Linked DNA regions of Homo sapiens: region 1 is linked to region 2. Evidence: fine-mapped expression QTL. A gene starts in region 2. The other region holds a variant in brackets. All regions are shown on one strand. Distances are from middle to middle.

Region 1 (5,379 bases), 22 kb after region 2:
GAACATGTGTAGAGCCTAGGTAGGACCATCCTATGAATGAATGTTCAGGAGTCACCCATCCCCATGAATGGAAACTAGGACTGATGGAACTAGGTATTTCCTGAACACTCAAAGTGGATCAACCTAATAGTGAACAAAACCACATCTGACAAGGAGAAGGCATAGGGACTACCTAGTGTTAGGAAACAGTCCCCGATTTCTGACTCATCCTGCTATAAGCCAACTTCTTTCCCACAAGACAGTACAGGACACAGCCTACAGGAGGAAATAGAAGTCCTGATCTTTCTCTTTCAGTATCCTGTGCTGTCAGAGGTCACTTTAGCTAGGCTTAAAAACCAGAAGGAAAAGAATTTCAGGATGGCAAAGGGATGGGCATGGTAGTGGTAAGACGATGAGGTGTGAGGGGCAGAGGAATAAGAAATTTAATGGTTTTTATTCAGACTTTATTATTTGGGCATGAGCCATTGGTGATTAACTCAATCTCCAGCCCCTTTGCCCTCCCTGAAGGTTGGGGAGGCAGGAAGTCCATCCCTCTGATCATGCCTTGGTCTCCATTCCCCAAACCCCATCCTGAAGCTATCTAGGGCCCCCAATACCGAGTCATTTCATTAGAGAAGGACATTCATCACTCCAGAAATTCCAAGGGTCTTAGAAGCTCTTGTGTTAGAAACTGGGGACTAAGACCAAATATTATAACAAAAAGATGTTCCCAGCATTCCTATCATCCAGGCAGTTACAAAGGTTTTTGGAACTCTGTGTCAGGAATCAGGAGCAGAGACCAGGTATCTATTTCTTGTCATGTCCCACAAGAGGATGCAGAAAATCTGGGATTGTAACTGTTGATGGTTATGTAATCTCAGGAAACTTCTTTGTCCTCCATTGCTTCACAATTAAATGGGGCAGATATGCCTCCCCTCTCTCACTCTATTTCCTGAGCACACATTCCAGAATCTCAGCAAACTCTAGAGACAAAGACACAGCCCTGGCCCCCAGGGAGCAAGGTCTTAGGGTGCTGGAGAAAATTATCGTTTTTGTTCCCTTCCAATAGTGAAATCTATGATCATTAAAAAAATACAGTATACCTCCTAATTAAGCCAAGTTTCCCTTCTCATTTTAGTTATCAGGAATTTAAATCAATCAAGGCATAAATTGGACCAAACATTATTACCACTGTTCATTGATATCCTTAACTAAGAACGTTACTGAAACTTTCCCTTAATACTTATTATATATCTTCCAAGTCAATCCTGAGAAAATCCATAAAGCTCATCTCAGGGCGAAAGCTTGTACATTTAAGTAACAGGATTCCAAATAAACAATATTGCTGAGTTAACTAAAAATACATTAACTAAAAATAAATCTCATCTAAAATATTAAAAATGGATATTTTTAAAATGCTTTTTATTTTTTAAGTGTTCCTGGTTAAATGTGGCATCTAAGAATGGTTTTTGCAACTTATAAAAAGCTGCTGCCTATCTTTTTAAAAATCCCTGCCAAAAAAATCACATAAATGGTGAATTTATAAAATGTCATACAATTGAATTCATATAATGGCAATGAGAATAAGTAAAAGGAAAAAATTATAAAGCATTTACTCACAATAGTATACATTCCGTTCAACTATGCTGGGAATTCCATTTATGTATTCAAAGTTTCTATTAACTTCTTTGGAATCCAGCATAAACCTTTGATAGTATTTATAAAAAATTTTAAAATGTGAAATGGCAAAATGGAAAGAGAGCATTCAAAGAGAAAGGAAATTCTTGGTCAGTTAAAACATTTCACACCTCCCTAACTGCCTTTCTCTGCTTCTTGATTCAAAGTTCTAAGGCAAGTAAACACTAGAAATTAGTGTTTCCTTTAAAAAGCCTTCTTGGGTTATGCCAAATCAAAAAAAAAAAAAAAAAAAAAAAGACATCTTAATTCACACTGTTGAAAAAACAGAGCATCTCCAAAGTTACCAGCTGTACATTTTACTTCTTTGAACGCACCCAGAACACATTGCAAAGATATTCAGCAAATGCCTACTGAATTGAATCTTGATGAGAAACAGATAATTCTGTTCTTCTATTAGTTTTATTTTATGGGGGTAGCTTAAAAATTAATCAATTTAGATGATGACATTCAAGGTCAGGAATGTTATTCCTTCTTCCTCACTCTATATTCCTGGAAGCCTTTTACAGCTTATTGTATTCAGTATTCCTCCTTGCATAAAATATAGACTAGTCACCAGAATTCCTATAAAAATGAAAAGCAAAAACAAGTGC[C/T]CCTATTAAAAGTTTTAAGAAGTCATTTTGTCAAGAGAAAAGCCTTCTTTAATGTTCTCTTCAAGTCTAATCAAGGGCTTTGAGAAAAATGCTGAGCAGTTTCCTTTTTTCTAAAGTTCAAGGAAGACAAAAGAGACAAATTTACATTTTGATTGAACGTTTTATTTATTCAGCCTTCACTCAGCAAATATTTATTAGTGTCCACTGTATACCAGGCACTGTGATAACTACTTGTTACTGCTGGGTGAGCTGCTAGAGTGAGCTACTAAAGAAGTGTATAATATGAACCACTACAGATTGTCGATGAGATGTGTGAGCACTCTGTCTCTTGGAGGGGCAATGGGAAAATAGGAGATGGAACTAGGTAAAACTCAAAGTGGCCCTTACCTCTCTCACTCTAACTCCATGCTCATCACAAATTTCAAGATCAAAAACTTTGGGAGGCCGAGGTGGGTGGATCATTTAAGATCAGGAGTTCGAGACCAGCCTGGTCAACATGGTGAAACCCCAACCTAAGCCCCATCAGGTGAACACCTAACATTAACCACCGCATTGGTTCCAAGAGTGAGGATGGGGGAGGGGTGTTGAGAGTTTAAGGAAGGGGAGTGAGAGTCATCTAGGAGAGTAGAAGAGAGAACAGACTGGGGAAATGGGCTGGCAACACTCAAGTATAACTTGGTTAATCATCTTGTACTTAAAGTAATAGTTACAAGCTTTTCTTGGGCTATGTACAACTGCATGGTGAAGGCAGAGAGTTGGATTTAACCAAGACTGTGACTTTGGTGAGGATGTATGACCAAAAGAGAGAGGAGGGGGGTATATGGAAGAGATTGCTTGTATGGATGAAGCATGGAATAACCGTGGCAAGGAGAGAAATAACGAGATGAGGGGTGAGGGACAGTGAGGTGGAGGATGGATCAATGTGTTGTGGGTCCTGCAATGGTAGAAAGACCATCAAGGTGCTTGAGGGAGTGAGGAGGAAAATAGGAAATAGTGGCTGGAGAGTGGTTACTTGAAACTGAGTTTATGGCAAGGATGTAGAGGGGTGTGTGTGTGTGTGTGTGTGTGTGTGTGTGTGTGTGTTCCGTAATGGGAATGTCTAAGGTATAATCATGGAAGTCAAGCTTTTTGGAGGTGGGGAGAGAACTGAGGGGGCCAGGACACTGGATGGATCACCAGATGCTGAAATCACTAAGTCTTGTTGGAGTGACAAGGAACTAGAAGTGCCAAGCAGTGACTAGGGTCAGTCAAGGATAGCAACCACAAGAGCAAGTGGGTGGTACGACCTGCTGGCATGGGACACAGAGCCAGGAGGGCCTTGGGAGTGGGGAAGAAGAGGGAAACAGGCACCACTGGAGAGAACTGCGGGGGGCAGGAGTGCCCCAGGTCAGAGCCAGGTTTCAGCAAGACCAGGCAGGTGATGGGGATGTTCAGGAAAAAGTGGAGGATGTGAGGGATTCTACCGAGGACTGACTGTGTCTTCCAGACCAGAGTGTCTCAAACTTTAATGTGCAGCCATGTCGCCTGGGGAGTCCTGTTAAAATGCACATTCTGATTCCGCAGGTCTTGGGTGGAGCCCAGGTCTCTGCATTTCTTTTTTTTAATTATTACCATTTTACTTTAAGTTCTGAGATACAGTGTCTCTGCATTTCTAACAAGGTCCCAGGTGATGCTGCTGCTGGTCTTTGGACTACACTCAGAGCACCGAGGTCCCATGTGGGAACTACCAGCACATACAGCTACTGAGCACTGAAAATGTGGCTCATTTGAATTGGGATGTGCCAGAAGTATAAAATGCACACTGCATTTTCAGGCCAATAAAAGAATATAAAATGTCTTATTAATAATTTCTTGGGTGAGTGCAGTGTCTCAGGCCTGTAATCCCAGCACTTTGGGAGGCCAAGGTGGGAGGATCACTTGAGCTCTGGAGTTTGAGACCAACCTGAGCAACACAGCAATACCCCATCTCTACTAAAAATCAAAAAAACTAGCTGGCCATGGTGATGCATACCTGTGGCCCCACTACTCAGGAGGCTGAGGCAGGAGGATCACTTGAACTCAGGAAAGTGAGACTGCAGTGAGGTATGATCGTGACACTGCACTGAGCCACTGCACTCAACTTAGTTTAGGCTGCTATAACAGATTGCCATAGACTGGGTGGCTTAAACAACACATGTTTTTTCTCACAGCTTTGGAGGCTGTAAGTCCAGTTTCAAGGAGTCAGCATCATGGGATCTGATAAGAAGCCTCTTCCAAGTTGTAGACTGCTGATTTCCAGTTGTATCCTCACATGGTGGAATGACAGCCAGATAATTCTCTAGGGTCCCTTTCACAAAGGCATTAATCCCATTCATGAGGCTTCTACTCTCATGACCTAATCTCCCAAAGGCCCCACCTCCATGGACCATCACATTGGGGGTTAGGATTTGATCTTATGAATTTGGGGGTGATATAAACATTCAGTCCACCCATAGAAATTATTGTTATTGAGACAGCATCTCGCTCTGTTGCACAGGCTGGCTGGAGTGCAGTGGTGCAATCATGGCTCACTGCAACCTCAAATTCCTGGGCTCAAGGGATCCTCCTGCCTCAGCCTCCCAAGTAGCTAGGACTACAGGTATGTGCCACCACTCCCAACTAATTTTTTTATTTTTTGTAGAGACGAGATCTAACTTTGTTGCCCAGGCTGGTATTGAACTCTTGGGTTCAAGTAATCCTCCTGCCTCAGTCTCCTAAAGTGCTAGGGTTATAGATGTGAGCCACTGTACCCAGCCAGGTTGTATATTGAAATAATAATTTCTTAATATATTGAATTAAAATATATTTAAGGCAATTTTATCTGTTTCTTTTTACTTTTTAAATGTGGTTACTGGATAATTTGAAATTATATATATGACTGTCATATATAAGACAAAGGAAATGTAAGAGATTTCCTTTGGACAACACTATTCTCAAGGGTACTTGGGAAAGGTTTCCAGAGCTTAAAAGACGGAGAAATAAAGTCAGATAGAAGGATGTATGGGGAAGCATGCAGGTCAGAGTCCAGGAGAGGCCTGGGCCCTGGGCCACGTCACAGTGACATGCAAAGGGCATGGTGAGATCAGTCCACCTG
Region 2 (5,379 bases):
TCTGCAAGTGTTTATGTGGTAGCTACAGAATTCAGCACTATGCTAGGGGTACAGAAGCCAATGCAACACCAAATGAGGAGACAATGCAGAGGGCAGATGCCGGAGGGAAGAAAGAAACACTGGGGCAGAGATTCAACCCAACCTGAAAGCCATGCAGGTGTTTTAAGTTGGAAATGAAATGAGGAACCAAAAAATTCCAGTCAGGGAGTGGTCTGCTGAGTGTGGTGCTTCAGGTAGACTCCCATGACAGGCTGCAGGACAAACTAGAGTGGGGGCCCACTTCCATACCTTCCTGGCCACTCAGTTCCAGCCAAATGACTGCTCTTAAAAGTCAAAATTAGGTTCCATTTCTAATCTGCACTGATTCATACTGCTGGTCGTGTAAATTGGTATAGGCCACACCAACACAGCACATTAGTTAAGATGTTAATCTTAACTAATTTCCGGACAATACTAAAATAAAATCTCTACTTTCCAGAGATTAGGTAAACTTGGTAAACATTTGAGCTTCAGGTCCAGTCTGACAAAATGGAAAAAAGGGAATCATCTGCAGAAAGGTCCCAGCATTAGAAAACAAAGAGAAGGGGGAGGACAGTATGTAGGCCCTGACCTGTCTTACTGCCTCAATTCAAGGATTCAATTTCTCAACCTCAGATCCTTGCCCTCTTACTAGTTTTCAAACTCAGATCCACCTCTTACTAGTTTTCAAACTCTTGTCTATTATGATTACCTTAAGCAAAGCAAGATGCATGAATAACCAGCAGTAAATCAGGTATTCAATACTTGAAATTGTGTAATATTCTGTGACTGTGCATCTGGCCAATTTCAACTTCTCCTTCTTTTTTTTTTTTTTTTTTTTTTTTTTTTTTTTTGAGGCAGGATCTCACTCTCTTGCCCCAGGCTGGAGTACAGTGGTACCATCATTGCTCACTGCAGCAGCCTCAGACTCCCGGACTCAAGTGATCCTCCTGCCTCAGCCTCCTGAGTAGCTAGCACTACAGGTGAGCACCAACATGCCTGCCTCATTTTTTAAATTTTTTTGTAGAGACAACGTCTCAATATGTTGCCCAGGCTGGTCTCAAACTCCTGGCCTCACCTCGAGCAATCCTTCCACCTCTGCACACCGAAGTGCTGAGATTTCAAGTATGAGCCGCTGCCTCCTGCCCACTTAGCCCTTTCTAACACTAGAGAACTTTGAGAGTGGTTTCAATACCAACTGGACACTTCCCAGCGGTTTAACCTCAGGCAAATCAAACTCCCATGCCTCAGTTTCCACATATATAGAGATAATAAAAGTACCTCCTCAAAGAGTTTGTTATGAGAACTAAATGAGTTAATGTTAGGCAAGCGACTGGAACATGATAGACACAATATGTATTAGCCATTATCACCTTTATCTCAGTGTTATATTGGCCACCACCCAGAGATACCCAGGAGCACACACATCACATTCTTTCTACAGCAATATGTGGGCACGATTACTTCATGACCACTGAATCTAAAACAGCACAGCTTGGTAAGACACAGCGGTCGGATCCCACCTACTGCAACACCTCTAAGAGGCGACCCTCACAAACCAGCCATGCTTAGCCTGAGACATTCCGAAGACCTCCTCTTGATTACCTTACTCGACGAACTTATTCCTTTGAAAATGGAACTAGCCGCACTTTTGGACCAGTGTGCCTCGGATACACTTCCAAATGTGTCAACCTGAATCTCAGAAGTTGGCGTGATTTTAAAAAGTTTTTTAAGTTCTTTTTCCTAAACATGTCCTAGTAGGTGACTCCACAGCATTACTTTCTTTCATGTTCTCTTTTCTATCTGGAAATCCGGTGATAGGGGACGAAACCAGCAAAGCACCCTTTTTCTTGCTTCCCAAACGTTAGCAGGTAAGCGCCCCTTGAGCCGAGACACATCAAGAAGACCTCACCCGCAAGTTCATTGATCACCGGTTCTTTTCCCTTTCCGGCACTAGGAGCTGCGAAGCACGACATGGGCTTGGAGGAAGAGACGCTGCGGTCACCTGAGGGGCAGGTGAGAGCGGGCGGTCCTGCCCGGGTGTGAGCGCGACATCCCGCGCGGCACACACGCTCACAGCCCCCAGAGAAAGACCAGAGGCGCTCGATGTATCCCGCACACCCCACACGCAACACACTAACTGCACCGTACCTTCCGTCCCACCTCCCGGCAGCAGACCCCTTCCGGGACGCCGAGAGGGCTGTTCCTGGAGAGACCGCAGCCCACGAGTAGCGGCGCGTAGGGAGAGCACGCGTGCCCAGGCTGCCTCGGCCGGCGCGCCCCCGCCCCCGCACTCACCTGGCCTGTGATACCGGTGATGAGCGCCACGTTCCTGGGCTTGCCCATCTCGCCGTCCCCGGAGCCCCGGGCGCTGGGGCAGCGTGCCGGTGCGTGTGCCATGTCCCGCGGCGGGCGTGCGGTCGGCGGCAGGGCGGAGCGCGGCAGAGGGCAGGCGCGGTGCCGGCAGGAACGCGGGGGTGTGCAGCACGAAGCGCCTCTCCAGGCTGCGGGCAGGGAGGGAGAGCGCACCGCGCGACCGGCCGCCACAGTCTGACAGGGGCGCACGGGAGGCCGTGCAGGGAGGGCCGGGGGCGGGCCGAGCCGGCCAAGGCGGGCCCGACGGGCCAAGCAGCGGGGCTGCGGCCTGACTGGCGCAGCGTCATTCGCGTCAGCCGGCGACGCTGTAGCAGGCCCCGCCCCTCCGCCGACGGCCACCGCGCGGGAGGGGCGGGGCCTGCCGCCGCCACCGCCTCAGGGAAGAGGAAGGAGGCCGCGGCTTCGCGTCCCGCCTCTCGCCTGGCTGGCCGTGGGGGGCCTGGACGCAGTGGCCTCCCGAATCTCCCAGGACCCTAATATCGCCCGAGGATGCTGGGAGGAACGCTGAGCCGACCTCTCCGTTAGGCTGAAGGTCTGAATTTTCAAACCCAGGGGTCACAGGGCCGGGGTCATGGACTTTGATAAATAATTCCTGGAAACCTGTTGCAGTGCCCTTTGAGAAGCCCGGTTTATGGTACCTGAAGGGCAGTAGCGTACAAGGCCCGTAAACGGGGGTCACAGATGTGGGAGTGACTAACTAGGCTGGCTCTCGCTCTTCTGGCCTTTCCTGAGGCTCGGAACCAGTAACGAGGTTCCAAATAGCTGAATTCAAAGTTTTCTCTTCTGAGGACTGCCAGTGCACAAGAAAGTCCCTAGCCCCACCCGTATGCGGCATAAGGAAATGTTGAAAAGACTGCCCGGGTCAATAAACCTGGACGTGGCAGATTTCAAAGAAAGTAATTCAAACACAGGTGGGGTCCCGGCTTACATCTGTTGGATTTGGCTGCCATTTGGCAGCTGCTCGTTGGACAGGGAGAGGAGAGGAGGTGACTCAGAGCCGGGAGGGCAGCAGGTGTGTGTGCCTAAGCAGTTGGCTGCAATCCAGGACACAGACGGAAACTTCCCGGTCTCCGTTGCTCTGCTTCTCTGTCCACATTCCTCTCCCTAATCGATAACTTCAGATCATCATTTCAAATCACAGAGTTACTAGGGCTGTGCCCAATATAACGTGCAAGAGTATGTATAGCAGACCTGGAACCCCAAAATCAGAAAAGCTCAGGATTACATTTAAAACCTCCCTCTCGCGCTCCTCGAGGTCCGTTAGGAATATTTCTTAGCTATAGATAGACTGGTCTGGTTTCACACCTGGCCTCTCCTCTGCGTTCTATGAGGAGAATGGCTCAACAAACATCTGATGGTGCCTCTGAGTGATGAAGAGACCCTGAAGCTGAGGAGAGGGAACACTTCCATTGAGAGGAACATGCTATAAGCTAGAAATGTCTGTGAAATATACGGGAATATGCTAAAACTATACTCATTTTCATGTAAATACGCTTTAAATTAATGCATGAGCCAATTATTTAACATTTTCCTTAAAAAAATCACTGAGCAAGCCGGGCGCAGTGGCTCACGCCTGTAATCCCAGCACTTTGGGAAGCTGCGGCAGGTGGATCACCTGAGGTCAGGAGTTCAAGACCAGCCTGGCCAACACGGTGAAAACCCGTCTCTACTAAAAATACAAAAAATTAGCCAGGCGTGGTGGTGGGCACCTGTAATCCCAGCTACTCTGGAGGCTGAGGCAGAAGAATCGCTTGAACCCGGGAGGAGGAGGTTGCAGTGAGCCGAGATCTTGCCATTGCGTTCCAGCCTGGGCAAGAAGAGCAAAACTCCATCTCAAAAAAAAAAAAAAAAAATCACTGAGCAAAACTGATACTTATGGGAGATATGACACATTTATCCTGTAGTTTTGAGACCTCCTATCACACAAACACTGGAAGTTGACACCAGTCAATTTCCTGTCACACCACCAAACACCTGCCCTAGAAGTGTGTGACAGTAGAAGAAAAATGGAAAAAAAATCAACATTATTAGGGCCTGAAAATATTTATAAAATGATGGGAAATGGTAGGTCAGAGGAAGCTTGAAGAATAAAGGCTATTTCTCTAGAGAACTTTTCTGAAGACAGGTGGTAGGTCTGCTACAGCAACGTACCATCCATAGGGTGACAAACGATAGAAATTTATTTCCTCACAGTTCTGGAGACTGGAAGTTTAGGATCAAGGGCTGATTTCTTCTGAGGCCTCTCTCCTTTTCTTGTAGCTGGCTGTCTTCATGTTCACATGGCGTTCTCTCTGTATGTGTGTCTGTGTCCAAACTTCCTGTTCTTATAAGAACACCAGTTACATTTGATTAGGACCCTCTTTAATGACCTTATTTCCAAATACAGTCACATTTTGAGCTACTAAGAGTTAAGACATCAATATATTAATTGGGGGAGGGACAAAATTCAACCCATGATTGACAGCTAGAGGGAAAAAGAGGTTCTTTTTTTTAACTGTTTGTGGGCTCGGAGGGAGGAGGTTGGTAGTGGAGGTTGTTGTCATTTTCCCAGTAGCATTAGGGCAACTTGAACAACGTCAGCACAGGGTCTGGGGCAGCATAAGAAGATTACATTAACTAGAAGTAAAGCGACCAGCGGTAGTGGAAAGCTCTAAGGGTGATGGCTCAGTTGTGTTTTCCTCTAACACAGTTCTCATCCCTGGGTGATTTTGCCCCCAGGGGACATTTGACAATGTCTGGAGGCATTTTTGATTGTCACAAATGGAGTTGTGCTATAGGTATCTAATGAGTAGAGGTTAAGTATTTTGCTCACCATCTGCAGTGCACAGGAAGCTCCCACAACAAAGATTTTTCTAGCCCAAAATGTCAATAGTGCTGAGGCTGAGTAACCCTTCTCCAGGAGGCCAGTGAAAGATGTTAACAAGCGGGTGGTTGAACTGACAGACACTGGCTATACTATACAGTGACTTCATGGTATGTCAGAAG

What was found. PIP is the estimated chance that this variant, and not a neighbour inherited with it, causes the effect. A credible set is the group of variants that fine-mapping cannot tell apart.
Region 1: its variant is the best candidate, but not a certain one, in a credible set for the expression of GMDS in whole blood (TOPMed, PIP 0.55).

Annotation. Positions count from the first base shown.
Region 1 is chr6:2,264,916-2,270,294 of GRCh38, forward strand. All of the region lies in intron 3 of GMDS-DT (GMDS divergent transcript), which reads left to right. Among named protein-coding and RNA genes, the nearest start is that of GMDS-DT, 22 kb to the left of the region's middle. The variant C/T (reference allele first, on the strand shown) is at 2,268.
Region 2 is chr6:2,243,005-2,248,383 of GRCh38, forward strand. It overlaps GMDS (GDP-mannose 4,6-dehydratase), which reads right to left and starts at 2,601. Exons shown (of 11, transcript NM_001500.4): 1 at 2,317-2,601. The coding sequence starts at 2,418. GMDS-DT (GMDS divergent transcript) reads left to right here and starts at 2,749. Exons shown (of 7, transcript NR_046229.1): 1 at 2,749-2,926. RefSeq lists an enhancer at 2,243-2,743 and a silencer at 2,244-2,873.